Linked DNA regions of Homo sapiens. The protein of the gene in region 3 purifies or fractionates together with the protein of the main gene of each other region. This does not show direct contact. Each region holds a gene or a part of one and is shown on either strand. Other genes may lie near its edges.

Region 1 (3,962 bases), on a different chromosome or scaffold from region 3:
TGAATATGCTCAAAAACAGTCAAGTAGGATGTTCTTTGCTACTGTTTGGCTTGGAGTTTCCTTGAAAGAAACTACAGAACAAATATAATTAACTCGATTGAATTCACTGGAAAGTAAAGTGATCAATAGTTGTGTTTTTGAGTTAACTGAAAAGTGACCTCAGGAATCACAGGAAAGGCCCAAAATTAGTCGTTTGAAACAGCTATTCATAGTTGGCCACAATATTAACACCTTCGGCGAAGCTGCGTGGTGCCCGGGGTGGAGTTCCCGAGTGTCAACAGCGTCCCTTGGGCGCTTGCGGTGGTCTTTGCCCGGCACTACCAGACCCCTCAGGGAGGACTTTTGGGATTAAAGGCATCTTAAAAGCCAACTGAACTGTGTGAGAGTTGTCAAGGTCACAACGGAGTCGTTTGTGTTTAAAACCCTGACAAGCAGGGTGGGAAGGGCCCCAGAGGCAGCGTTCTCACGCCGGAATGCCCGATAACAAGACCGTCCCGAGAGACTCCGCAAAAGCCACAACCTTGCACACTGGCTAGGCAACCTCACACCGAAAAATACCGGAGGACTCCCGCCAGCGGCGCCCGTCCGACCTCCGGCGGGCGGCGCCCTCTCACCCGTCCTCCTGGCCGCAAAATGACCGCAAACAGGGACGCCGCCCTCTCATCCCACCGCCACCCCGGCTGCGCTCAGCGGCCGCGCACCCCCACGTTTGCCAGCAGCTCCCAGAGGCGGTCAGCCTTTGGGTTTGACGACGGCAACTTCCCGGGCCTCGGCGAGCGCAGCCACGCACCCGGAAGCCGCCTCGGGGCGCGACGCCGAGCCAAAACCGCCCGCGGGCTCCGAGGCCACAGGCAAGTGGGGAGGGTGCCCCGTGGGGCTCGAGGGGACGCAGGCACGCCCAGCCCACGCACCGAGCACTCTCCTTTCCCGTCCCCGGCTCCCGCCAGCCGAGACACAACGCTCGCGTGATGACGTCGTGCGCCTGCCCGGCCCACTCCAGTAGTCTCCGACCCGGCCCACGGCCCGCCCCGCGCGATGACGTCAGTATCCACCCCGCCCGCTCCCGGTGACGTGCCAGCCCCAGGCCCACGCCGCTCCCGCCCCGCGTGATGACGCCACCGTCCCGGGCGGAGGCGGGCGTGCGGCGGAGCCGCGTCCCCTCAGAGGGGCGCTGGCGCGGGGCTGAGCCGCCCGGGATCAGCGCGAGCACCCAGCCCGCCTCGGCCGGGAGGGCAGCGCGGCACTGCGGGGCGATGAGCGGCGCCCGGGGCGAGGGCCCGGAGGCGGGCGCCGGCGGGGCTGGGGGCCGCGCGGCGCCTGAGAACCCCGGGGGCGTGCTGAGCGTGGAGCTGCCCGGGCTGCTGGCGCAGCTGGCGCGGAGCTTCGCGCTGCTGCTGCCCGTGTACGCGCTGGGCTACCTGGGGCTCAGCTTCAGCTGGGTTCTCCTCGCGCTCGCGCTGCTCGCCTGGTGTCGCCGCAGCCGCGGCCTCAAGGCCCTGCGCCTGTGCCGCGCGCTGGCGCTGCTGGAAGACGAGGAGCGCGTCGTGCGCCTGGGGGTGCGCGCCTGCGACCTGCCCGCCTGGGTGAGTGCAGACCCCTGCCCGTCCCGACCCCTGACCACCAGTCCCGATCTCCCCTCGTCCAGGCAGGCACTCCCCTCCCCGCGACCTGCCGCCTGGGTGAGTGCAGACCCCAGCCCTGCCCCGGCTCCCGCCTTCGTAGTCCCCCACCCACCCCGGTCCAGGCAGGCGCTTCCCTTCCGCCTGGGCGAGTGCAGACCCCAGCCCCGGCCCCCGGGCCGGTTCCTGCGACCTGCCAACCTAGGTGAGTGCAGACCCCGCCCCGCCCCCCGGCCCCGACTCCCAGCCTGCTGGCGACCTGCCCGCTAGGGCGAGTGCAGACCCCAGCCCCGCCCCGGCCTCCGGCCCACTCCCTGCGAACCTGTCCGCCTGGGGCCGCCGCCCGCTGCTCGCCGCTCCCGCCCTAGTCCTGAGTGCTCCGTGCCCTCCCTCCGTCCAAGTCGGGCGTCCCCTTCTCCGCTTCCCCGCCCGCCCAGGCTCCGGGTCCGGGGCGCGTCTGCCCTCGTGAAGCCTCCCCTCGCCGTCCCGCGCGGCTTTCTCGGAGACCCCTCTTCACAAAGCCCGCTTCCCTCCCCCGGCCTGCAGACCCCGAGCGCCAGCGGCAGGTACCGGGCTTGGCGCCCCCTCTTCGGCCGCGGCCCTGCCCGGAGCGCGCGCTTCCTCCTGGTGCCGCCCGCGGGGTCTCCTTAGGGGCCTGAGCGGCCGGTTCTGCTCTCAGAGCGCCCAGCGCGATTCTCGTGCGCATTCCCAAAGCCCTGCCGGCCTGGAAATGCTCCGGGTGGCTTCAGCTTTTCCTTCTCTCTGTTTTTTAAAAAACGTAATGACAGCTGGTGGGGGAGAAGTTAACTTTTTCTTCTACCGGGAGAAGACGCACTCGTGTCTTGGTTGTTTCTGACGCATTTCAAGGGCAGTAAGTGTCTCTCGAAAGATGTGGAGATATTAGATAATTGAAAGATTGTTTCAGTTTTTTTGCAAGTATAATTGTGAGACTGAGCATTTTTATATGGGATCGACCTGAATCCAGTGTGAATGTGTGTGTGTGTGGCAGGAAGTTTTGGAAGAGTTGCAGCAATAACAAGAGTCATGGTATTATTTTATTTTTAACCCGGCAGTTCTCTACCTCGTATATTTATGGACTATAGACACGAAGAGTTGGCTTCAAATCTTTTTCTTGTCATTCCCTAATTCTTTCTTAGCCATGACTTGGCTTCACAGTTTCACACTGCAAGAAAGGATTTTAATGATTCTTCCATTAGGCTTAATATAAACTTTGGGGTGAAGGTGACCAGCAGTGGGTTTCGGAAGGGTCATTTTCTCTTAGAGGAGAAAAGTCCCTGTTTCCAGTCATGAGACACCTGAGAAGTAAGGCATGACACAGATGGCAAACAAGAATTAGAAAGGAGGCGTGCCCAAGACAAGAAGAAGGTAGTAGATGCTACTTTGTGACGTCATATTGCAACTGGAGTAAGAATATAATGTAAGGAGCTTGGGAATGTACAGTTCTGCCGATGCGTGGTGAGCATGAGGGAGTCATATTTGGAGAACCAAGGTAACTGGCATGGTGCAGCTTTTAGCTAGCGGCGGGAAAAACCGAGGGGTGTGTAGAAAAAGGAAGTTAAGAGGAACCGAGGTGGGGAAAACTAAGAACAGAGGAGGTGCACTTTGGAAATGGAAAAGGACTTTAAAGTGACGTTTTGTGTCTATATTACACTAAGATGCATAATACTAAAAAGTAGCTAAAAACAGAGTCCATTAGCATCCATTGCTATGTTATATTGATAACATAGCAATGTTATCAGTGCTGAAATTTGCAGGAAGTGATGATGCTGACTTTCATAGATACTTGGTTATTGGCTAATATCAAATTTGCTTGTTAAAAATCTTTGTGAAACACAGATTTTCTTTTTCTTTTCTTTTTTTTTTTTTTTTGAGACAGAGCCTCTCCCTGTTGCCCAGGCTGGAGTGCAATGGCGTGATCTCGGCTCACTACAACCTCCGCCTCCAGGGTTCAAAAGATTCTCCTGCCTCAGCCTCCCGAGTAGCTGGGATTACAGGCGTGCACCATCACGCCCAGCTAATCTTTGTATTTTTAGTAGAAACAGGGTTTCACCATGTTGGCCAGGCTGGTCTCAAACTCCTGACCTTGTGTTCCGCCTGCCTTGGCCTCCCCAAGTGCAGGGATTACAGGCGTGAGCCACCGCGCCCGGCCACACAGACTGTACAGATGAAATTGCTGCCCTATTGAAGAACTGAAATTTTTTTTTTTTTTTTTGAGACGGAATCTCGCTCTGTTGCCAGGCTGAAGTGCAGTGGCACCATCTCAACTCACTGCAACCTCCGCCTCCCGGGTTCAAGCCATTCTCCTGCCTCAGCCTCCCGAAT
Region 2 (4,083 bases), on a different chromosome or scaffold from region 3:
ACACTTAAAATGTGACAATAGCTGCCGGTCACTAAGAAGCTAAAGGGAGATAAATTATCTTGGCATACAGCAACAGAATGGTTTATTTTAAGCAAAGACTAAAAGGAGTCTAATAAAATTATTGGGAGACCAAGGCTAAAAGCCACAGATGCAGGAAGAGTTGCAGCAACCAATCCAAAAAAGTTTAGCCTTTCACAAAGAGTAGAAAGGCCAGCTGTGGACTGTGTGTGGACTTTTAGGTCCTTTTGCATTGAAGATTAGGGTGGCCTCCCCCTAGCCTCGAAATAAAAAATCGTCTCTGAAGCAGAGAGACAACAAGGCAGGGCATGAAGAGGAATCCAATCTATTTCTTGTAAATTAAATTCAACTCAACAAATATTTCCTGAAAATCTACTATGTGCAAGACATTGTGAACGATGCTTGCCTTACCTCAAAGGCTTCAAAATTTTATGGGAAAAGGGAAGCGAACGGGCTTCCCGGAAGTAAACAACCCAAGGGCGAATAGAAATGCCCTAAAAGAGGTGCCGGTCAGGCTTATCGGTTCAAAAGCAAGAAGGCTTTGGGACTCAAGAGTTTAGTCTCCCAAAGTGAGAGAAGTGGCGTTCAAGATAATTGCTGAAGAAAAGGCAGAGATATGGGGATGAAAGATAGGAAAGTAGGTGAACTTTAGGAAGAGCCAAGAGGGGCCAACTCTCGGTTCCCTCACAACTGCCAGTTTCCTCCCGCGCTCAGCCGACGTCACGCGCACCCGTGTCCGCGGGCAGGCGCCACGGTTCCGGACCAGACCTACCCCTCCTCTATTCTCCCCGCCCTTTCTCACCTCGGTCCAAACTCCTCGGTCTGCCCTGTCTGAGAAGAGGAGAAGACAATGCCGTCGGGAGTGAGCCCCAAAGCCCGCAACCTAACAGTCCCGTCAACCCGGGAGCCACCGGCGGCGGCCAGGCCGCATCTCCATGGCAACGCCGCCAAGCGCCAGTTCGAACGCCCGCGCTGTGGCCCGCGCGTCGCCAGTCCCGCACCGCCCACCAATGGGCATCCAAGGAATCGGTTGACGTTCGTTGACTTCTCCTCTGGAAGACCAATCAGAGGTCTGAAGAAACCGTGGGCGTAACTCTCAATTTCCGACCTTCAGCCAATCGTTCCGCTTGAGGGAAGATCTCGCGACGTTTCAGTGTGAGACGCGCACCTTTGAGGCGGGTCGAAGATCCTTCTGCCGAATTCTATTGATGGGCCCAAGCGTAACCAGGCTCTTCTGATTGGCCGGTGTACTTCAGTTTCCGTCCAAGGTCCGCCTCCTACCTCCTTCTGCTTCGGGTGAGTACCCTTAAGGGCCCACTTGATTTTAGTTCTCAGTGGAGGAAATGAGCCTTGGAGCGATGGGAATCTGCCTCTGGCAAACCTCTGGTCGCTGCAGGGCCCGAGAGGGATGCGCCCTCCTCTAAGTTGGCAGTGAGGTGTGGGCAGGCCAGGTCCCATCCGCTCTCAGGACCTCAGTTTTCCTGTCTGCACCGGGAGAAGGGAGGTTCCCTGACTCTGAGCCTTGCTTGTCCCCGTCGGAGTGGGGATAGGGTGGGTCGTCCAAATCCCAGAGGCGGGAGAGGTCCAGGTTTAGGGCCCAGAGGCCCAGGCGCCGAACCTTCCCCTCCCTGGGCCTCAGTTTCACTTGTTGCTACCCATTAAACCCCGCCTGCTTTCCAAAAGAGATTTTATGTTTTCTAATTGCTTCAGTTATTGAATGGATAATATCGTGGCAGTTATAGCAGAAGTAAAGAAAGTCGAACAAGAGCCCCACCGCCTTAAACAAACAAACAAAAAAGGGACAGCGTAAACAATGCAGGCCGGGTGCGGTGGCTCACGCCTGTAATCCCAGCATTTTGGGAGGCCAAGGCGGGCGGATCACGAGGTCAGGAGATCGAGACCATCCTGGCTAACACGGTGAAACCCCGTCTCTACTAAACAAAATACAAAAGTTAGCCAGGCGTCGTGGCGGGCACGTATAGTCCCTGCTACTCGGGAGGCTGAGGCAGGAGAATGGCATGAACCCAGGAGGCGGAGCTTGCAGTGAGCGGAGGTCGCGCCACTGCACTCCAGCCTGGGCGACAGAGCGAGACTCCGTCTCAAAAACAAAACAAAACAAAAAAAAACTGAATGCAATCAAATTGTCAAATGTAAAACGCTATTATAGAGTTAAGGTTAAGATCATTGATGTTAGGAGTCAGGCAGACCTACATTTGAGTCACTTACCCAGACATCTCTGAGCTATAGTTCCCTTTCTACTCTTCTGAAAAATGGCAGTAATGCCTCAGCGGGTTGTTGTGAAGATTAAGTGAAATAATGAAGGTAAAGCACTTGACACAACGCCTGGCGAGTAGTAACTTCTTAAAAAATGGTAGCGGCCGGGCGCGGTGGCTCACGCCTGTAATCCTAGCCCTTTGGGAGGCCGAGGCGGGCGGATCACGAGGTCAGGAGATCGAGACCATCCTGGCTGACACGGTGAAACCCCGTCTCTACTAAAAACACAAAAAATTAGCCGGGCGTGGTGGCGGGCGCCTGTGGTCCCAGCTACTCGGGAGGCTGAGGCAGGAGAATGGCACGAACCCGGGAGGCGGAGTTTGCAGAGAGCAGAGATCGCACCACTGCACTCCAGCCTGGGCGACAGAGGGAGACTCCGTCTCAAAAAAAAAAAGGTAGCTATTATTCTTATAATAAGAACAGGCAAATACACTAGTCAGTGCGTTGGTGTACTTTTTGTAACTGAGTACCCAATTTTGCCCAAAATTAGTCAGTTAAGGGAAAAAAGGTAATTCTTACTAATAAGGAAACAAATCCATTCTTCAAAAGATAAATTATTTTTCTAGTTTCTATATTAAAAGGAATTTATGCTGTGGGACCTTATAAGGAATATATATACTGTGGTGAACAGTGTTGAGCAGTTTAACAGACAAGATGAAAAGTCATTTCTTTAAAACAGAGAAGCTTTTTGATGATCTTTTATGACACACGGGTAACAGTAACTCATATATTTAGTACCTCTGATAATGTCAGACCCTCTATATATGTCATTTATAAACTCCACAACAACCATGCAAAGTAGGTGTTAACTTCATTTTACAAATGAGGAAGTTAAGTATCTTGCTCTAAGTATCTTGCTCTATTAACTTCAATAGCTAGGCCTTTCTGACTGCATAGACAGCCATGCTTTTCTGTGTTTCTGACTAAAGGAGGATGAAAATGCTTGGAATACCAGACAGATGCAGGGGCAGGTTGGACAGCTTGACTTACCTAAATTGGAGGGAATGTGAGCTGCAGAGGTACCTATGGTAGGAGCAATATCTTGCTCTAATAGAAAATTTTCACCGTGGTCTTGGTAGAGAAGGGAGGAGAAAAAAATTGTTTTAATAAAAATAATTTTAAAAAAGTAAATTCCCACCTTGGGAAATGAAGAGATAGGATGAGATGATCACTGAACTTTAGACCCATCTGTTCATTTATCTTATGGATAGACTATAGCACTTCAAATTCAACTTGTCCCAAACAAATGCTTCACTTGCACCCCCTCCTCCACCCAGGCACTCAAACCAAAGCCTTTCTCTTTCCCTTGGCTTATGAAACATCTCTCTGTCCCTTAGACAATGAAATATCACTATTGTCCATTTTACTTTGAAATATCTCTCAGATTCATCCCTTCCTTTCCTTTCTCACAGCCTCTGCCTTGATCTAACTGGAATCATTTGTTAACTGGTCTGTTGCAATAGACTTGTAACTGGTTAATCTCTCTGCCTCCAATCTGTCCTAATTCGTTCCCCAGCTTGCTTGCAGCTAGAATATCTTTGTAAAATGTCAGTCTGACCAAATTATACCCTTGCCTAAAACCAGTCAGAGGCTTCATTGCCTACAGAATATAAACTAAGCTGTTTACCAATGAGATGTCATTTTGTGCTTGAGGGTGTTGCCCACACTCCTCCCTTTGCTGGCAGTGCCTTGCATCCGCCTCCCTTCTGCCTGGTAAACTAGTGACCCATCAGAATCCTTATGGGGTACCTTGTTAACCTAAAGATGCTTCTTTGCTGCCTTTCCATCTTA
Region 3 (3,500 bases):
CTCTTGAGTCATGTCTGAGAAGTGGAACTGGGCACAAAGGAAACTAGATGGATAAAAGTGAGTAAGTCAGTGCAGATCTGTTACCCTATTGGGAAAAAAAACCAAAAACCATCTCAAGCTTCATCTTCTACTCCTCATATGACTGCATCTCTATACCAACTACATCTTTCTTTATTCAAGAAAATTGCTGTCTGCCAAGATTCATCCAAGCATGAAGAAATTCATCAAGGTGAAAATGGGCTTAAATTCTCAACAAGTATCTTCTGTGTGTGTCAGCTTCTGGATGCAAACTTTTAGGATCTGTTTTTCAACACACCACCAGAGGAGTACTTAAAAATCAGTAAGTCAGAAAGATAAATCCAAAAACACAAACTCCTCTTTTAAAAAAAGGAGAAAAAAATATTAGAAGGGGTGTTTTTTAATATTCAGAATTTTTTTGCTCCCTTCAGAAAAGTCTTAGTTAAGGTTAAATTATTTTTCTAAATCAACATTGCATGGATTATGTTACCATTGATTAACTATTTTTGCTAGCTTTCTTCTTGCTGTACTTCAATTATAGCATTGGATGTATGTTGAACATGTCAATTACAGAATACAAACCAAAGGCTTTTTTTGTTTTTATTTCTTTTCAACATCTCACTGGCCTGGCAAGAGTCAATGAGTCACACCATCGATCTCCACATTTGCCCTTTGCTCTACAAGTGTTGTACTCACCATGAGGAAATACCCAATAAGCAGAACAGGCATTAAGAGGATAATTAGTAGATAATCAATGAAGGTAAATTTTTTCTTCACAGCATAATGCAAGCAGGTTCTCTCTTTCTAAAAATTAAGAAAAGGATTCTTTACTAATAAAGCATTTCAATTCAAAATTTATTCAGATGGCCATCTCAAAAAGTTTAGTTTGTGCTTTTTGTTTTTCCGGTACCCATGGCATCTTTTCCTGTGGGATACATCTGATTACTGAATGCGGCTTTCCATGGAGCAGAACAGAGAACTCGGTCCAGTGTAAAGGAAAAGCTAGGGAAGGGCTCCTGGGAGTCAACAAAGGTGAAATGTACACAGCAGAGCTCATCAGAAGACAGATTCTTATACCCACTTAGTTTTTGGAAAAAAAGATACACTGAGATATAAACTTAGGACTGAATTTACTATGAAAATTGATAGTTATCCCTTAATCATCTACCATGTGTACGATTATCCATTTTGTGGTTTGTTCATAGGAAAACTCTTAACCACATGGCTGTTTTTCATGTTCCTTCATGTGCATAGTCTAGAAGAATGCATATAACTCAATTTTATTCTTCAAATATGTGAATACTTATCAGGTAATAGATGTCAGCTTCCAAGGGTTGTGGGAGATGTGAACTCTTAGGGCCTCATAATCAAAGATGGACAGAAATATGCACAAATAAATATAAGGCAAAACAGAAGGTGGTAATTGGAATACCAATCAAATCAGTAAGAGGAGAGGGAGCCCAAGAGAAAGAAAGGAGGTTAGTTTCCACTTATGCAAGGCACTGTACCTAAATAAGAACACTTTTTGTTTTTCTAATATGAAGGCATTTATATTTTCTGTAAAAAAATTTTAGAAACTAGAGAGGAACATAACGATAGAATTTTAAATTGCCCATTATTATATTAAATGGTCCAGAGTTAACTGTTGACATTTTGTTGTATTTTCTTCCAGTCTTCTTAAATGCATAAATGTGGAATTTTGAAATGTAGAATGATATTGCATATGCAATATCATATCTTGCTTTTTTCAGTTCAGAAACGTATATTTAGAATATGTACATTTTTCCATGCAATTCAATATTTTTAAACATATGATTGTAATGGCTGCATGGCTTAGTATTGAGTGGAACTACTCTGATGTATTTAGCTAAGCCCTGCCTTTTGAACATTTCATGGTTTTTGAGGGTTTTGTTTTTGTTTTTGTTTTTCTGTGAGACAGGATCTTGCTTTGCCACCTAGGCGGGAGTGCAGTGGCACAATCCTAGCTCACTGCAGCCTTGACTTCCTGGTCTCAAGCGATCCTTCAACTTCAGCCTCCAAAGTAGCTGGGACTACAAACATGTGCCACCACACCTGGATAATTTTTTACTTATTATTATTTTGTGTAGAGATGCGGGGGTCTTGCTATGTTGCCTAGGCAGGTCTTGAACTCCTGGTCTCAAACTATCCTTCCACCTTGGCCTCCCAAAATGCTGGGATTCCAGACATGAGCCACTGCACATGGCCCGTTTCAAGTTTTAAACTTTTCATTTTTATAAATAATATTGCCTGAACCTGCTCATTCATAAATTTTTGTCAACATTTCCAAATTTGTCCTTTGCCTACATTTCTAAAAATAGAATTCCTGGCATAAAAAGTATTAATGCTTTTCATATTGCGCTATCAAATTGTGTTCTAATAAGACAATAATAACTTAAACTTTCTGATCAACATTTGTTTTCTTTTTTAATCTTGGTCAGTTTGACAGACAAAAACAAGGATCTTTATGTTTTAATTTAATTTGCTATCAATAGAATCCATAGGCTTGTGCTTCTGAATCTCCAGCAGAGCTTTTTGTTTGTTTGTTTGTTTTTAAGGTGTTTGTTTGTTTAGTGTTTCTGGAAATAATTTATAAACAGATTTCAGACATGAGAAATCACAGGTTCAAATTATTAATGTACAAATATTAATATTTGGAGAAAATAAAAATATTAAATGCTAACATTAGAAACATTTGAAAGTGGAAAATGCAAACCAAAAACTTCTACTGATAAAATCTATTAATCTAATGTATCCACTAAAGTCTTTTTCATGGTTTTTATGATACCAGAAAATCCCAGCAGGCTGGCTGAGGCCCTCCTCTTCTGCAAAGCGGAGATAAAAGTGTCTCCTCAGCCTTGCCCATGGGCTAACGTCTCCTCCCTCAGTTTCCTAACGAGCGCACCTCTTAAAAGAGCGCAGGAACCCACAGACATCTGTCTTCTGGCACTACCACTCACTGCAACTCCACATATCTGGTTTCACAGCAGTGATCTACAGAGATCCTATTATAGTCCACGATGTTGCATATCTGTTCCATTCAGCACAGGCATGACTTGCTTTTAATCGCAACCAAACCAAAAATAGTAAGCATAAATAAAAAAGTCCAGTAATGATCAATTTTCTGATAATACATTGTTACTCCTGATGAGCTAGTCTCCAAATGACTTAGAAGGGGCAAGGGGGGATTTCCAGTGTTTTCTCGCCTTGAATGCATATAAGTGGGTACAGGACAGTCATAATGATTGCAAAAAAATGGCTTAATATTTATTCAGTGTAATTTAAATATTGCCTTCACTACGATGCAAATGCTAGATGTTCAGAAAGGGCTCCACAAGGATTTTCACAGCAATACACACATATTCTTCTCTTTCTTGGTCCTGAAGGCTCCAAAGTAGCTAATATTGCATCTTTAAATATATTCTTTACACCTTTTTGTGTGACTTCAAGTAACCTCTGGCTCA
Region 4 (3,995 bases), on a different chromosome or scaffold from region 3:
ATACATTGAGATTTTGTGTGTGTGCTATCTTCTGGAATGAAGCCCCACACCGTTTATTAGATGATCTTGGGGATATATGTCTTGAAGGGAAGAATGATTTAGAATATCACATTAAAATTGTATATGTACTGTGAGGCAGCAATACAAATCTGGCACTTTGCCAAAGTTATTACTAGTAGGTGGGTTAAAGGGACGTTTACTCCAATACTATGCAAAGTAAAGTGGACCTTTCTGTCAAACAAAAATAGTAATAGGCCGGGCATGGTGGCTCAAGCCTGTAATTCTCAGCCTGGTGGCTCAAGCCTGTAGTTGTCAGCACTTTGGGAGGCTGAGGCGGGAGGATAGCTTGAGCCCAGGAGGTCGAGGCTGCAGTGAGCCACGATTGTGTCACTGCCCTCCAGCCTGGGCGACAGAGTGAGACCCTGTCTCTAAAGACAAACCACACACACATATACACACACACACTGACACACACTTATTGTTCAATTCAGTGCGTGTTTTGCTTCGTTTTGGATGAAAATTAACAGGCTTTCACATTGTGACTTAATCTTATCAGAGACTCCTAAAGTAAACAATAGCGCAGTAGGAGAAACCCTGATTGTGTAACTTCTGCTCTTGCTCCCCTGGAAATAATGTCATTTCCTATAAACCCACCCCCAAACAATCGTGACTACGTATTCATACCACTGGAGTCTTCCAAAATAGCAACTGCACATTATTTATCAACGTTTAGTTTGCATTTGACAAAGCACATCCACCTGGGCTTCCATTTATCATTGCTATTATTATATTTTATTATTATTTTCTTATTTCCAAAATCTTTGTAGAATGGAAAGTAAACGGGGGGACCAAAACCCCACTTAGAACTCTGCTTAGAAGATTCGGAAATGCCCTTGAGGTTTGGTCCTCCCAGGAGAGCACGAAGTTTATCCTCGCGCGCAGCCTCTCTTCCCCGGCCCGCGCCCACCGGCCTAGCCCGGGGCTAGCGCCCGCCCACGTGTGCTCGGCTCCAGGCAAACCCCGCTGAGCAGCGGCCGCACACCGCCCACCCCGGGGATTGGTCAGCGCGGCCGGGGCCCGGCGGGAGGCGGGCTCGGGGTCGCGTTCCGGGAGCGCGGAGGAGGCGGTGCCGCCCGGCCCCGCGCCCCGCCCCCGCCCCGGGTGGCTACACAGAGGGGCGCCCACGTGCCCAGCCCTCCTTCTGCAGCGCGGCCGGCGGGCGCTCCTCTTCGCGGGACCAGCGAGGCGGCGGCCGCTGCTCCAGCGTCCCCCAGCCGCGGGCCCCCGACGCGCTGCAGCCGGCAGCCCACCGCCGCCTTCTTGGCGCGACCCCAACCCAGCCCCAGTAAGTTGCTAGGTCTCCAGCCCCGCCGAGAGGCCGCGGGCGAGGGGCAGCCCGGACGCTGGGGCCGGCGGGGAAGGAGCGGGGCGAGGGCGCCCTGGGGCCGGCGGGGAACTAGAGGGTCGAGGGCTCCCGGGGACGAGTCCAGCTGCGCGCAGCTGCCCTGAGGCCGCGCTCCAGCGAGTCTTCGTCAGGGAGTCGGGGCCGTGGGCTGGGGCTGAAGCCGTGGACCTTCGTCCTCGGGGCTGCGCCCCGGAATGCGCCTCGCCTCGTCCGGTCCCTGTGCAGCCGGCTCTGCCCGGGGACTTCGGGGACCGCTGGAACTGGGAGAGGGGCTGGCACGGCGACTTCGCGGGGACCCTTCAGTCACTATTTCCAGAGGAGCTCGGCGCACCCCTCTCCGGGTGGGCAGGCTGAACCTCCTGGCCCTGCACGCTGCCGGGGTCCCCGAAGCCGCCTTCGCTCCTTTTCGGTTCTTGGCTTAAATTAGAAAGCCGGCTTGGAGCGCTGGAAGCCCCTTCACATTCTGCAGGGGACCTGGTAAAATAGCCCGTCTTGGTGTTTGTATTGGGTATTTTAAAGTAACTGGGTGCCTTTTAAAATCCGTTTGAGATGGGCTGTATTTTATAAGCCCGTTTCATGAAACGCTGTTCTTGAGGCTTAGAGAATCTCCCAACCCATCACCCCAGAGTACCTGTCCGTTCAGAAAGTACCTTTTCATCCTCTTTTGACGCTTACATCCAGTCTATGGAGTAAGGTATTGAGAGATTGTCATCTTCAACTCGTCGAAAAGAAATATGCTCAGCAAAAGCCACAATCATATGTGGCTTTTGAAGTGGATATAGTGCCTGGATTTCAAGAGAAAAAGTACTCAGCCTCTTCAGAGTTGTAAATATTTGTGCAAAACTGGCTAAAGCCTTTAGGTGACTAATTTTGGACCAGTAATAAGATTTATCTAGACGTTTGTGCAGAAACACTAATCCTTTTAATGAGAGGATATCGTCAGATCTTATTCAAATAAGAGCTCTCTGAATCCCATCCAGGGCCGCCTGGGTTATAAAATTAGAATGTATGTGGCCTTGACTTGATACTTTTTCATTCTTGCCTGAGCTAGTCTTTAAAAGTTAATAATTATCTCCTCCGGAAGGTGAAACATTCTGTGTTTGTAATCTTTCTCTAGGAGATGTATAAGATGTGAATATTCTGTATTATGTACCTTGTTAGGATTGCTTTGTAATTAGTAAATCCTTTTTTATTTTAATTGCACTGAAGCGTGACATGAAATGATCTCTCAGTGCAGAACACAGGACTTCTTCCCTCTCCTTTTCCTACAAAGTTGCTAGTTGCCTGCTCTGGGAGGCCACTTTATTGTGATTTTTCAAGTTTCTTCCCTCGGCCCACACTTTGTTTACATTCTGTGCCTTCATCTGGGAATGGTCATTTACCTTAAGGCATTTTAATCTTTTAGGGTGTGCCATGGCCTTGGAGACCAGAGTAAAGCGCTGTGGTATCTGCGGGGATCAGTTTGCAGAATCCTTGGCCTCCTAAGCAGTGGGCATAGCTCTTTTCATTCCAGAATCTCTGATCATTCCAGAGTCTCTCCTGTCACTGGGCTTAGGAGCCTGGGAAGGCGAATAGAAGCTAGCTGGGGAGACAGGGGAGCTGTGGCAGTTTAAAAAGCCTGATCTTGCGCTGGAGTTTTTCATCTTGCATTCTCATGTATCTTTGCCTTTTGAACACATGTGCCTGAAGAATTTTAAAGTTCACGTTTCTTGCTTTGCACTGCAAGCACACTCACCTTTGCAGAGTGGAAGTGCCTTGTCCCCATTCTAGGTGGTCTACCTTCTGTTCTCTTTTCAGACCTCCTGGCTTAAGCCCTTGTTTCTCCTGGCTGTTATGGCCAGACCCGGAGTCCCCGTTGTGCCCATTTCTTCTCTTTTCAGTCCTTCCTTTTCAAATGTTTTTTCCCAGAAGTCCTCTGGCAACTTCTCTATTTCACCTAGCCTCTGTCTTCTCTTGTTTTATTTTTCCCTCTCTCCCTCCCTCTCTATCCCTCTTTCCCCCTCTTTCCCTCCTTCTCCCTCCTTTCTCTCTTCCTCTCTCTCTGTCTCTCTCTCTCTCTCCCCCTCTCTCCCTCATTTCTCTCTCCCTCTCTCTGTCCCTCTTCCCTCCATTCTCTCTCCCCCCTTCTCTCTCTGTGTGTTCAGAGCCATCTGCTGGTTTTACTTTGGTGCCCTTTGGTGGACAACTTTCAGAACAGAATCTTGGGAGCACCTTCATGTTGCTGTTTGCTTTATTTCCCCCAAACATGTAGATATGAACACACTGATTTTAAAGACTCTTATAGACTACCTACTAGATGCCAAACATTTAGAACAAAAGCAAAAGCTTTCAGTGGAATATATTTCTAAATACTCACATATTTAGTTTTGGGTGCATCATTTGAATGCTTTGTCATCCAAATGAATCCTGAAAAACTTAGTTAACTAAGATTTCACTTAAGTGATAGCACTTGTCTAAATGGGCTTGAAAATCGAAGCTGTTAATTAATTTCTAAAACTTTAATCTGGATATTAAAAACCATATAGATACAACCTTGAATGACAACAGAAAACTAATGGAATTGTTCTTGTCATTGTCTTCCATTTTAATA
Region 5 (3,500 bases), on a different chromosome or scaffold from region 3:
CAAACACCTGCCAGTAACAGTAAGATAAGAAAGACATAAGGCTATCTCACTAAGTTTGTATAAATTCTAAAATTCAGAATAAGTTTTGTATGAGGTATTAAAAATTTAGTTTATAATTGTAACATCTTTATTTTATAGGCTATTTAAAAATAGGTGTATATTTAACTACAGATGTAATACATGGCTTGAAAAGGAAGCGTAGTGTAACATTTCAGACTGAGTGTGGACTCTGACACCAAGTTACCTGGCTTAAAGTTCCAGTTTTGTTATTTACTAGCTGTGTAGCCTTAAGTAAGTTCCTTAACCCCTTGCTGCCTCAGTATCGTTATATGTAAAATTAAGGTAATGAAAATACCTACATTATGAGATTGCTGTGACTGGTGAACAGGTCGGCATGTAAAATATATGAAACAGTGCCTGAAATATTTTAAAAGCTATATACATTTTAGGTGTTACTATAGTTGAAATAATCCAGAAAATTAGAATTCCCCGTATTATAAGAGAATAGTAAATATTGTCAGATTTTTATATACATAGCATAATTTTTTAAAAATTTATTTAAAAATCTACAAACAGTAAAGTTCACTTTTTTAAAAAATATACTTTCTATGGATTTTCACAAATGTGTATAGTCTTGTGACTGTCAGAGATGTGTGAACTGGAACAAATCCATCTTAAATAGGAGCTGGGTAAAATGAGGCTGAAACCTACTGGGCTACATTTTCAGACAGTTAAGGCATTCTGAGTCACAGGATGAGATAGGAGGTCACCACAAAATTCGGGTCATAAAGACCTTGCTGATAAAACAGGTTGCAGTTAAGGAGCTGGCCAAAACCCACCAAAACCAAGATGGCGACAAGAGTGACCTTTGGTGGTCCTCACTGCTACACTTCCACCAGCACCATGACAGTTTACAAATGCCAGGGCAATGTCAAGAAGTTACCCTATAAGGTCTAAAAAGGGAATGCATGAATAATCCATCCCTTGTTTAGCATATCATCAAGAAATAACCATAAAAATGGGCAACCAGCAGCCCTCAGGGCTGCTCTGTCTGTGGAGTAGCCATTCTTTTATTCCTTTACTTTCTTAATAAACTTGGTTTCAGGTTGCACCGTGGACTCACCCTGAATTCTTTCTTGGGCGAGATCCAAGAACTCTCTTTTGGGGTCTGGATCAGGACAGCTTTGCTGTAATGTGACCTAACTAGGAAATAGAACAGTTTCCTCAACCCCCTAAACTACTTCTTCTTTTTTTTTTTTTTTTTTTTTTTTTTTTTTTTTTGAGAGGGAGTCTCACTCTGTCACCAGGCTGGAGTGCAGTGGCACCATCTTGGCTCACTGCAACCTCTGACTCCAGGTTCAAGCGATTCTTCTACCTCACCCTCCCTAGTAACTGGGATTACAGGCACGCGCCACCATGCCCAGCTAATTTTTGTATTTTTAGTAGAGATGGGGTTTCCTCATGTTGGCCAGGATGGTCTCGATCTCCTGACCTCGTGATCTGCTCCCCTTGGCCTCCCAAAATGCTGGGATTACAGGCATGAGCCACCGCTGGACCAACCCCCTAAACTTATATTGTGTTGTTTCTTTGTAGTCAAACCATCTCCCTACTTGTAATCTTTGCCAACCGCTGATCTGTTTCCTTATCCTTTGGGTTTGCCTTGTCTGGAATGTCATATAAATGAAATAATCCAGTAAAAGATTTTAAAATCATATCTTTTGAGTCTGGCCTCTTTCATTCAGCATAATACATTTGAGATTAACTCAACATGTTGCATGGATCAGTAGTTTGTCGTTATTCTGAGTAGTATGCCATTGTGTGGATGTACTACGGTTTTGTTTATCCATTCTCCCTGACTGACATTTGGCTGGTTTCCAGTTTTTGGTAATTATGAATAATGCTGCTGTGAATAATTACGTATAGGTTTTTGTGTGAATATACATTTTCATTTGTCTTGGATATTCAGTAGAATTTCTGGGTTTTATTGTAAGTGTATATTTAGGATTTTAAGAAACTACCAAACTTTTCCAAAGTGGCCATCCCATTTTGCATTCCCACCAGCAATGTTTGCAAGTTCTGGTTGCTGCATATCCTTGTCAGCTCCTGGTATTGTCAGTGGTTTTATTGTTTTAAAATTTTTTTTTTTAGCTATTCCAAATAAGTGTATAGCTAGCATAATTTGGAACCAAGTTTGTCCATCAAACTCTTGAGACTTGGAAGAAGATAAAGAATAGGGCTGGATTAAATGCAGAGTCACATAGGAGCTCATAAGGAAGAGATGGAGAGACCATCAGATTTGTGAGAGCTTTGCAATTTCTGTCATATTCACTGTTGTAATCCCCAGATGACTAACATAGTGCCTGGCACACGGTAATTGGGATATCTTTGTATGTTTATTGAATCATTGAAAATCAACAAATGATTGAAAGGGAAGGAATAGAAGTAGGATAGAAGTAATTTTAGATTAGATTTGGTCTGAGTAATCCCAGTATATTCATGTGACACACACCTTTCTACCTGCTTAAGTCTGAGTTTAGAGACATATTTCAGGGCTAATTTCTGGCCCCTTCGCAGGAGAAAGAGAGCATGATATAGCAGAAGAAGCAGTAAGCAGAAAAGATTTGATGCTACTAATTTGTTGTGTGGATTTAGGAAAGTCTTCTTAACTCTCCTGAGCCTCAGCTTCATCACTGCATAATGAAAATATTTTATTATATGATAGCTAATTTATTTTTTTTCTGTTAATCACATCAAATCAGAAATTGGTGAGGAAGAAGCATGCCAGAGCCTTGATAAGGGAAGCATTATATATGGATACAACGTGAAGTGTAGCTCTGCAGGGAGTTGAGGGGTGAGTGTTAAACAGAGCTAGCTAATCACTAATTGGCAGAAAAAAAAACAGTAGATAGAAAACGGTAGTTACAGGGTTTCAAACAGAGCAGCAGCGTTGCAGGACTGGGGGGCGGGGTGGGTGTATAAAAGGAAGTAGGCATTAACAATACCAAATTAAGATGTTCGTAGGTTTTTTTTTTTTTTCTGGGGAGAAGCTAGCTATAGTGTCATCAACGCAAAGAGGAGGACCTGAGCCTCAGAGAAAACAAAGTTGAGGATAGGTGGTAACACAGACCACTCTAGGCCCCATGTGTGAGCTCTGGGAATTGTTCAGCATGCTGCTTTCCAGTGGCCTTTTTCTCTACCATTATTACTCCGTTACCCCACTTCTTTAAAGTTTAGGTCTAGAGTTTAGCAAAAAGCCAGCTCTTAGTTGATATTTATTCAGTTTGTACTTTGAAGGATTTTGTACACGTACTGTCAAGTATCAGTAGAAATTTAAAAATAGTCGGCTGGGCACAGTGGCTTACGCCTGTAATCCCAGCATTTTGGGAGGCTGAGGCGAGCAGATCATGAGGTCAAGAGAACCAGACCACCCTGGCCAACATGGTGAAACCGTGTCTTTACTAAAAATACAAAAATCAGATGAGTGTGGTGGCGCGTGTCTG
Region 6 (3,500 bases), 3.2 Mb from region 3:
TTAATCTTGGGGTTAGCTTAAACAGATGATCTTGTACTATCCCTTAAGTGAATGTAAATAAGGACACATCACTTCATCTATCTTCTCTCTAGCTGACAAGTTTCTTTGAGGTAGAGAGAAGGAGGAAAAAAAATGTCACTTAGGACTATCTCTAGAAACAGCACATATCCGTCTGTTCCTTATCCTCAACCCCAAAAAAGTGTTTTACTTTGGTCACAAAAATCTAGTTAGGTGTTGTAGGCCCCTGTAAATTTAATTATTGGGAAATGTTTATAATTGAGACAAACATGTCTAATAATTGCTTACTTGGTTAATGATAACATTATGAATTCTTAGATGGTGACTTTTAAATTCTTTTGTTAAAATTTTAAATGTATTATGATTTTTTCTGAAATTCTGTTTTTATCTAACATTTAATTTTAAGGCCCAGAAGCCTTACCTGGTACAACGGAGAGGAGCTGAATTTGCTTTGACAACTATAGTAAAGCATTTTGGTGGTGAAATGGCAGTGAAGTTGCCACATCTCTGGGATGCTATGGTTGGCCCATTGAGGAATACAATCGACATAAATAATTTTGGTATACACATATTTTTATGAGTCCAGTTTTTAACAAATTTTAATGTCTATTAATTGAATATATCCTTATAAAATAAAAATGCCTCTATGCCTCTACCTGTTTATTCCAGACCAGCTGGTAAGTTTTAAAATGGAAACTTGGTTTAAAAAAAACACACACCTTTATTTTATAAAAGAGATATTTGGGTTGGGCATGGTGGCTCATGCCTGTAATCCCAGCACTTTGGGAGGCCCAGGTGGGCAGATCACTTGAGGTCAGGAGTTTGAGACCAACCTGGCCAACATGGCAAAACCCCATCTCTAGCAAAAATACAAAAATTAGCTGGGCGTGTAGTCCCAGCTACTCTGGAGGCTGAGGCAGGAGGATTGCTTGAACCCTGGGGGTGGAGGTTGCAGTGAGCCGAGATTATGCCACTGCACTGCAGCCTGGATGACAGAGCGAGACTCTGTCTCAAAAAAAAAAAAAATTGTTTTTAAAGAGATACTTGAAATGGATCACTATGTTTAAGTTCTTTGGTTGCTCTACATGTAGTACCCCAGCACTTAAATTAAGGTCATGGCATTTAATTTTAACACTAAGAAGCAAAATTGACTCTCCTATGCTAGCTGAAAAAGTGCTAAAAGTTTTTGTGTGCTCTAGATTTTGAAAAATTATTTGCCAGATAATACAGACAATATATTTTAACAGATGGAAAATCCCTCCTGGATAAGGGAGATAGCCCTGCTCAAGAATTGGTGAATTCTCTGCAGGTTTTTGAAACAGCAGCAGCTTCAATGGATTCTGAGCTTCATCCCTTGGTAACTAACTAATGCAAGTGTAATATTTCTTCAAATAAAACAAGTGGTCTTATTAAAAAGTCTTAAGGTTTGAAAGGTACAGCTTTGATGTCATCCTTATTAATTGCATTTTTCTTTGCTGTGGTATAACTAGATTCCTCCTTTACTAACAGTGCAACTCCTGTGGGCTTTGATGTAGACCAGGCTGCTTGAATTTAATAGAAAACCCAACCTGGAAGCTTAGAATGTGGGGGCATTGAGGAAAGGACTCTGATGACACAGGAGCCAGATGTAAATAGGAAAGAAAACTGCAGCCCTGTTCATCCAGATGATCCTAATAATACAGCTCCAAGAAAGGAAAAGCATATATAATGAAATCTGTTTCCTAGATAAGTACAAAGGTGAAAGGAGTCACCTGCCTAAGGTGAAGCTGGTCAGTGGCAAAGATAGAACACTGGTTTGGGATTTTTTTAAAAAACTATTAAAATGTTTCTTACAAAAGAATTAGGACAGAGGGAGGAGGAAAATAGAGAATTATCTGGTTTTTTTCATAGAAGAATATTATTCTTTTCATATCTCTGCAATAGGAAGCTGTCTGCAATTTACCCCATTTTGAAGGGTATTAGCCCAGTTCTCTATTGTTATTTAACACAAAAGGGAGAATCTATGAGAGGGTGGAGAAGAATGGATTTTTTTTTTTGTACATAGTAATAAAGTATGTCCTTTTACTTGTTAAAAGTTTTGCTGATTTACTGTTAGTAAAGAAAAGTAGGCCGGGCGTGGTGGCTTACACCTGTAATCCCAGCACTTTGGGAGGCCGAGGTGGGTGAATCACGAGGTCAGGAGTTCAAGACCAGCCTGGCCAATATGGTGAAACCCCCATCTCTACTAAAAATACAAAAATTAGCCGGGCGTGATGGGACATGCCTGTAGTCCCAGGTACTTGGGAGGCTGAGGCAGGAGAATCACTGGAACCCGGGAGGCAGAGGTTGCAGTGAGCCAAGATCGCGCCACTGCACTCTAGCCTAGGCGACAGAGCGAGACTCAGTCTCAAAAAAAAAAAGAAGGAAAAAAAAAAGTAGAGTCCATCTGTACGCTCTTAATCTTCATAATTAGCAACATGCATTCAGCTGAACTGTAAGGCACATCAAACTGTTGAACAGATACCTGGCTCTCATCAGCATTAATTCTGGTGTTCCTTGTAGCAGACATTTAGTAAGGTGCTGTTGTGATGCTGTTGTGATTATAACACCTATGGTAAGCCAGGAAGCTACAGTGGACGATACCTACCAAAGTATGGTGCTAGAATAAAATCAGGAACACTCAAGCCACTGAATAAAAATTATGTACCTAAATCTAAATTAGTGCTACCAAATTTGGAGGGAGCTGGTGATGTGTGGTGCTGTTTTCCAGCTTCAGTAGGAGAATCTTGCCAAGTACTTTTTGGTTTGTTTCCTGTTAATTTTGGAAAGAATTGAGTGTTCCTATATGCCTAAGAGATGATATGAGCAGAGCAGAGGTTCTATACCTTTTTTTCCCTTCTTTTTGAAAGAGTTGTAATACATTAATTTGTATTTGGATTAGTTTTCTATTGAGAATGTTTTGGCAGTAATGTTTTGAAGTATTTGGAGATATTTTTAGAGTCACTTAGAATATTGAAAACTTTCCTGAGTATGGGCTATTATAGTTACATATTAAACAGTATTTCCTAATAATTCTAATTGCCATTAACTTTTTGTTTTTAGTTGGTCCAGCATTTGCCACATCTTTATATGTGCCTTCAATACCCCAGTACTGCAGTGAGGCACATGGCTGCTCGTTGTGTAGGTGTCATGAGCAAAATAGCTACCATGGAAACAATGAATATTTTTTTGGAGAAGGTTCTTCCGTGGCTGGGAGCAATTGATGACAGTGTCAAACAAGAGGGTGCAATTGAAGCACTTGCCTGTATCCTTTTTCATTTGACAAACTGTTCAGGAATTATATTCATTTCACTTAAGGATAATTAAAATGAAATTGATGTGTTCTAATATGCACATAAATAACCTGCCTTGTTCCAAAAAATACCTATTCTTTTTACATCTTATTTTGAAATATTTTTGTATTTTATTACAAATGTGTTACAAACTGATTTGCATTTTATGAT
Region 7 (2,541 bases), on a different chromosome or scaffold from region 3:
CTGGTGACCTCTCGCACTCTTGCTCTGCCTAGGATGGGGCGGTCCTGCCTCAGTGGCTCTGCTCCAACTGTCAGGCGCCCTACGACTCCTCTGCCATCGAGATGACGCTGGTGGAAGTTCTACAGAAGAAGCTGATGGCCTTCACCCTGCAGGACCTGGTGAGTCGTGCATGCCGCCTGCCCGTGTGCCCTGGAGTCCACAGGGGGGTTTCTGTGCACTCCCGGGAGCCGGGGTGTGTGCAGGTCCTGAGGCACGCCCTGGTGTCTTCCAAGGGGCCTGCCCTGCAGACCAGTCCATGCCCTGAGCCTGATGGACTGTTCTGTCCACACTGGTTGAGCACCTGCCTTGGGTCAAGAGCTGGCCTTGTGGGTGCTTCGTTCTAGCGGAAGGAGGCAGACACTCCCAAGTGTGAAGAGAAGGAAAGGAGGAAGAGGGAGTTGCACAGCTCGGCCACAGGAAGGTCTTGCCGAGGGGCATCTGAGCAGAGGCTGGGGGACGCGCCAAGCTGCCGTGTGGTGGTGCACGGCGTTCAGGCCTGCAGGATGGAGGGAGTGAGCAGGGCCTGGAGGAGGCCTCAGGACTGGGCATCTGGGGTGGAACATCCACAGCGAGGGTGGGTGTAGGGAAGGCGCTGGCACCGTGGGATGAGGTCGTGCATTTTACTCATAACCGAGGGCTGGCTGCACACAGCAGGGGCTCGAGGCTTACTGATGGGCCCACGAATGTGTCTCGCGAGCCTGTGAAGAAGCAGCAGGCAGGTCTGGCCAGCGCGGGAGGGCTGGCGCCCATCGGGGCTGCTCCCTTTCAGGTCTGCCTGAAGTGCCGCGGGGTGAAGGAGACCAGCATGCCTGTGTACTGCAGCTGCGCGGGAGACTTCGCCCTCACCATCCACACCCAGGTGGGCTCTCCCTCATCTGCCTCGGCTCAGCCTGGCCTCCTTGGCCTCCTCTCTGAGTGGACTGGGGTCTCACTGTGCCTGTTTATTCCTGCAGGTCTTCATGGAACAGATCGGAATATTCCGGAACATTGCCCAGCACTACGGCATGTCGTACCTCCTGGAGACCCTGGAGTGGCTGCTGCAGAAGAACCCACAGCTGGGCCATTAGCCAGCCCCGGGCCCCGGGTGCCTCTGCGTCCGTGCCAGGCCTCCTGATGCCAAGGCCACATCCCCGTGCTTCCAGTGACCAGACCACTGACCACCCTGACTGTCCAAACCTGTGACCCCAGGCCAGGGAACGGGGAGGAAACCAAAGAAAACCATTTTCAGGGAGCTCAGACGTCACAGGAGGGAGCGGGAGCAGGATGTGGCCCTGGCCTCGCCAGAGCACCTGAAGAAGCAGGCCGTGAGCGAGGCTGCGAGTGCCCTGGGCGCCGTTTCTCACGCAGTGAATGCTTTTCCAGGCCTCTGTTGCTTCCTGCACCACACCTGGTGGGGTGGGAGCGTCCTCTAGGTGCCCCTAGTTCTTTGTCCTGCCTCCCAGAGGGAGGAAAAGCCCCTGGGGGCTTCTGGCTCCCTGAGATTGGGCTCTGAGACGAGACGGGTTCCCAAGGCCCTGGTGGGGCTGGAGTCTCACCTGTTTGCATGGAGAAATGGGCTGGCCCCACAGCCTCACAGGAGCAGTTTGTGGGCTGGTTTCCCCAGGAATCCAGACCCTAACCCGTGAGAATCTGGATTTTGGCTTGTGAGCCCTGCTTATTTGGAGCCGGGTCTAGAGGGAACCCTCTATCAGCCTCAGGAAAACAAGACCTCTGTGCACCTCACTTTTGGCTCACTGCAGCCCTTGTCCTTCACCTCCACACAGGACCAGCTGGAAGCAGAAAGAAGAAAGGCCAATTTCACAGGGCACCAAACAAGTATGAAATGTAAATCAGAAATGCAGACACCCCAGACGAGAGCCTCACAGGAGGGAGGGGGCCCCACAGGCTCCCCAGGAGGCTCGTGTCTTTGGCCCAGAGCCAGCCTTAGTTTGTCCCTGCCATCTACTGTCTGAGGCCATCGCTGCTACACTTTGTTTTTATTTGTATTTCATACTGAAGTTTCTCTAGGTTGTCACTGTGTATTTGTGCAGAGCGCCTCAGATCGGGGACTGGGTACCACTGGGCACGTGTTTGGCCCCTGGATGCTGCTGGGGCCGCCTGCCTGGAGAAACCTGATGCCTGCTCAGATGGAGGAGTGCTGAGGCCTCCAGAGTGGAGATCAAATCAAATTAGGGCAAGCAGGGGAGGAGGGAGGCTGGCTGACTAGGCTTCATTCCTGGAAGCGAATCTGGAGAACCCTCAGGAATGAGGAGTGATGGGGCCAGGGGACAGCCGCTCGTCCCCCAGGAAGGCCACCTAGCAGGACCAGGGGTCGCCCGGTGCAGCCGTGGGCGCCAGTCAGCCTGGGTTCACTGTGAGGCTAGCTGCGGGCATTTGAGTAGTGGTGGAGGGGTCAGAAACGGGAAGCTCTGGCCCTGGTTCCCAAGCAGCGGCTCAACCAGAAGAGCCAGTTTCTCCAAAAATGAGCTGGATATTTGTGAGCCACACAGCATGTGCAGGCCG

Evidence for each region.
Region 1: the proteins of ANKRD22 (region 3) and ESYT2 purify together in Homo sapiens (co-immunoprecipitation; 2 studies listed by BioGRID and IntAct, with this or other methods). This does not show direct contact.
Region 2: the proteins of ANKRD22 (region 3) and NUDT2 purify together in Homo sapiens (affinity purification with mass spectrometry; one large-scale study listed by BioGRID and IntAct). This does not show direct contact.
Region 4: the proteins of ANKRD22 (region 3) and SLC7A2 purify together in Homo sapiens (co-immunoprecipitation; 2 studies listed by BioGRID and IntAct, with this or other methods). This does not show direct contact.
Region 5: the proteins of ANKRD22 (region 3) and LCLAT1 purify together in Homo sapiens (co-immunoprecipitation; one large-scale study listed by IntAct). This does not show direct contact.
Region 6: the proteins of ANKRD22 (region 3) and BTAF1 purify together in Homo sapiens (co-immunoprecipitation; one large-scale study listed by IntAct). This does not show direct contact.
Region 7: the proteins of ANKRD22 (region 3) and POLE purify together in Homo sapiens (co-immunoprecipitation; one large-scale study listed by IntAct). This does not show direct contact.

Annotation. Positions count from the first base shown.
Region 1 is NC_000007.14:158,826,710-158,830,671, reverse strand, and holds the start of ESYT2 (extended synaptotagmin-2), read left to right. Parts: upstream 1-1,162; 5' UTR 1,163-1,253; coding exon 1,254-1,583; intron 1,584-1,651; exon of another isoform or gene 1,652-2,490; intron 2,491-3,962. UniProt on the Homo sapiens protein: Tethers the endoplasmic reticulum to the cell membrane and promotes the formation of appositions between the endoplasmic reticulum and the cell membrane. Binds glycerophospholipids in a barrel-like domain and may play a role in cellular lipid transport.
Region 2 is NC_000009.12:34,328,286-34,332,368, forward strand, and holds the start of NUDT2 (bis(5'-nucleosyl)-tetraphosphatase [asymmetrical]), read left to right. Parts: upstream 1-1,283; 5' UTR 1,284-1,314; intron 1,315-3,282; exon of another isoform or gene 3,283-4,083. UniProt on the Homo sapiens protein: Catalyzes the asymmetric hydrolysis of diadenosine 5',5'''-P1,P4-tetraphosphate (Ap4A) to yield AMP and ATP. Exhibits decapping activity towards FAD-capped RNAs and dpCoA-capped RNAs in vitro.
Region 3 is NC_000010.11:88,827,845-88,831,344, forward strand, and holds part of ANKRD22 (ankyrin repeat domain-containing protein 22), read right to left. Parts: intron 823-3,500; coding exon 715-822; intron 1-714.
Region 4 is NC_000008.11:17,495,893-17,499,887, forward strand, and holds the start of SLC7A2 (cationic amino acid transporter 2), read left to right. Parts: upstream 1-1,195; 5' UTR 1,196-1,345; intron 1,346-3,995. UniProt on the Homo sapiens protein: Functions as a permease involved in the transport of the cationic amino acids (L-arginine, L-lysine, L-ornithine and L-homoarginine); the affinity for its substrates differs between isoforms created by alternative splicing.
Region 5 is NC_000002.12:30,520,246-30,523,745, forward strand, and holds part of LCLAT1 (lysocardiolipin acyltransferase 1), read left to right. Parts: intron 1-3,500. UniProt on the Homo sapiens protein: Exhibits acyl-CoA:lysocardiolipin acyltransferase (ALCAT) activity; catalyzes the reacylation of lyso-cardiolipin to cardiolipin (CL), a key step in CL remodeling.
Region 6 is NC_000010.11:91,993,270-91,996,769, forward strand, and holds part of BTAF1 (TATA-binding protein-associated factor 172), read left to right. Parts: intron 1-424; coding exon 425-578; intron 579-1,265; coding exon 1,266-1,375; exon of another isoform or gene 1,376-1,388; intron 1,389-3,099; coding exon 3,100-3,301; intron 3,302-3,500. UniProt on the Homo sapiens protein: Regulates transcription in association with TATA binding protein (TBP). Removes TBP from the TATA box in an ATP-dependent manner.
Region 7 is NC_000012.12:132,623,262-132,625,802, reverse strand, and holds the end of POLE (DNA polymerase epsilon catalytic subunit A), read left to right. Parts: intron 1-32; coding exon 33-158; intron 159-383; coding exon of another isoform or gene 384-623; exon of another isoform or gene 624-787; intron 788-808; coding exon 809-898; intron 899-992; coding exon 993-1,106; 3' UTR 1,107-2,041; downstream 2,042-2,541. UniProt on the Homo sapiens protein: Catalytic component of the DNA polymerase epsilon complex. Participates in chromosomal DNA replication.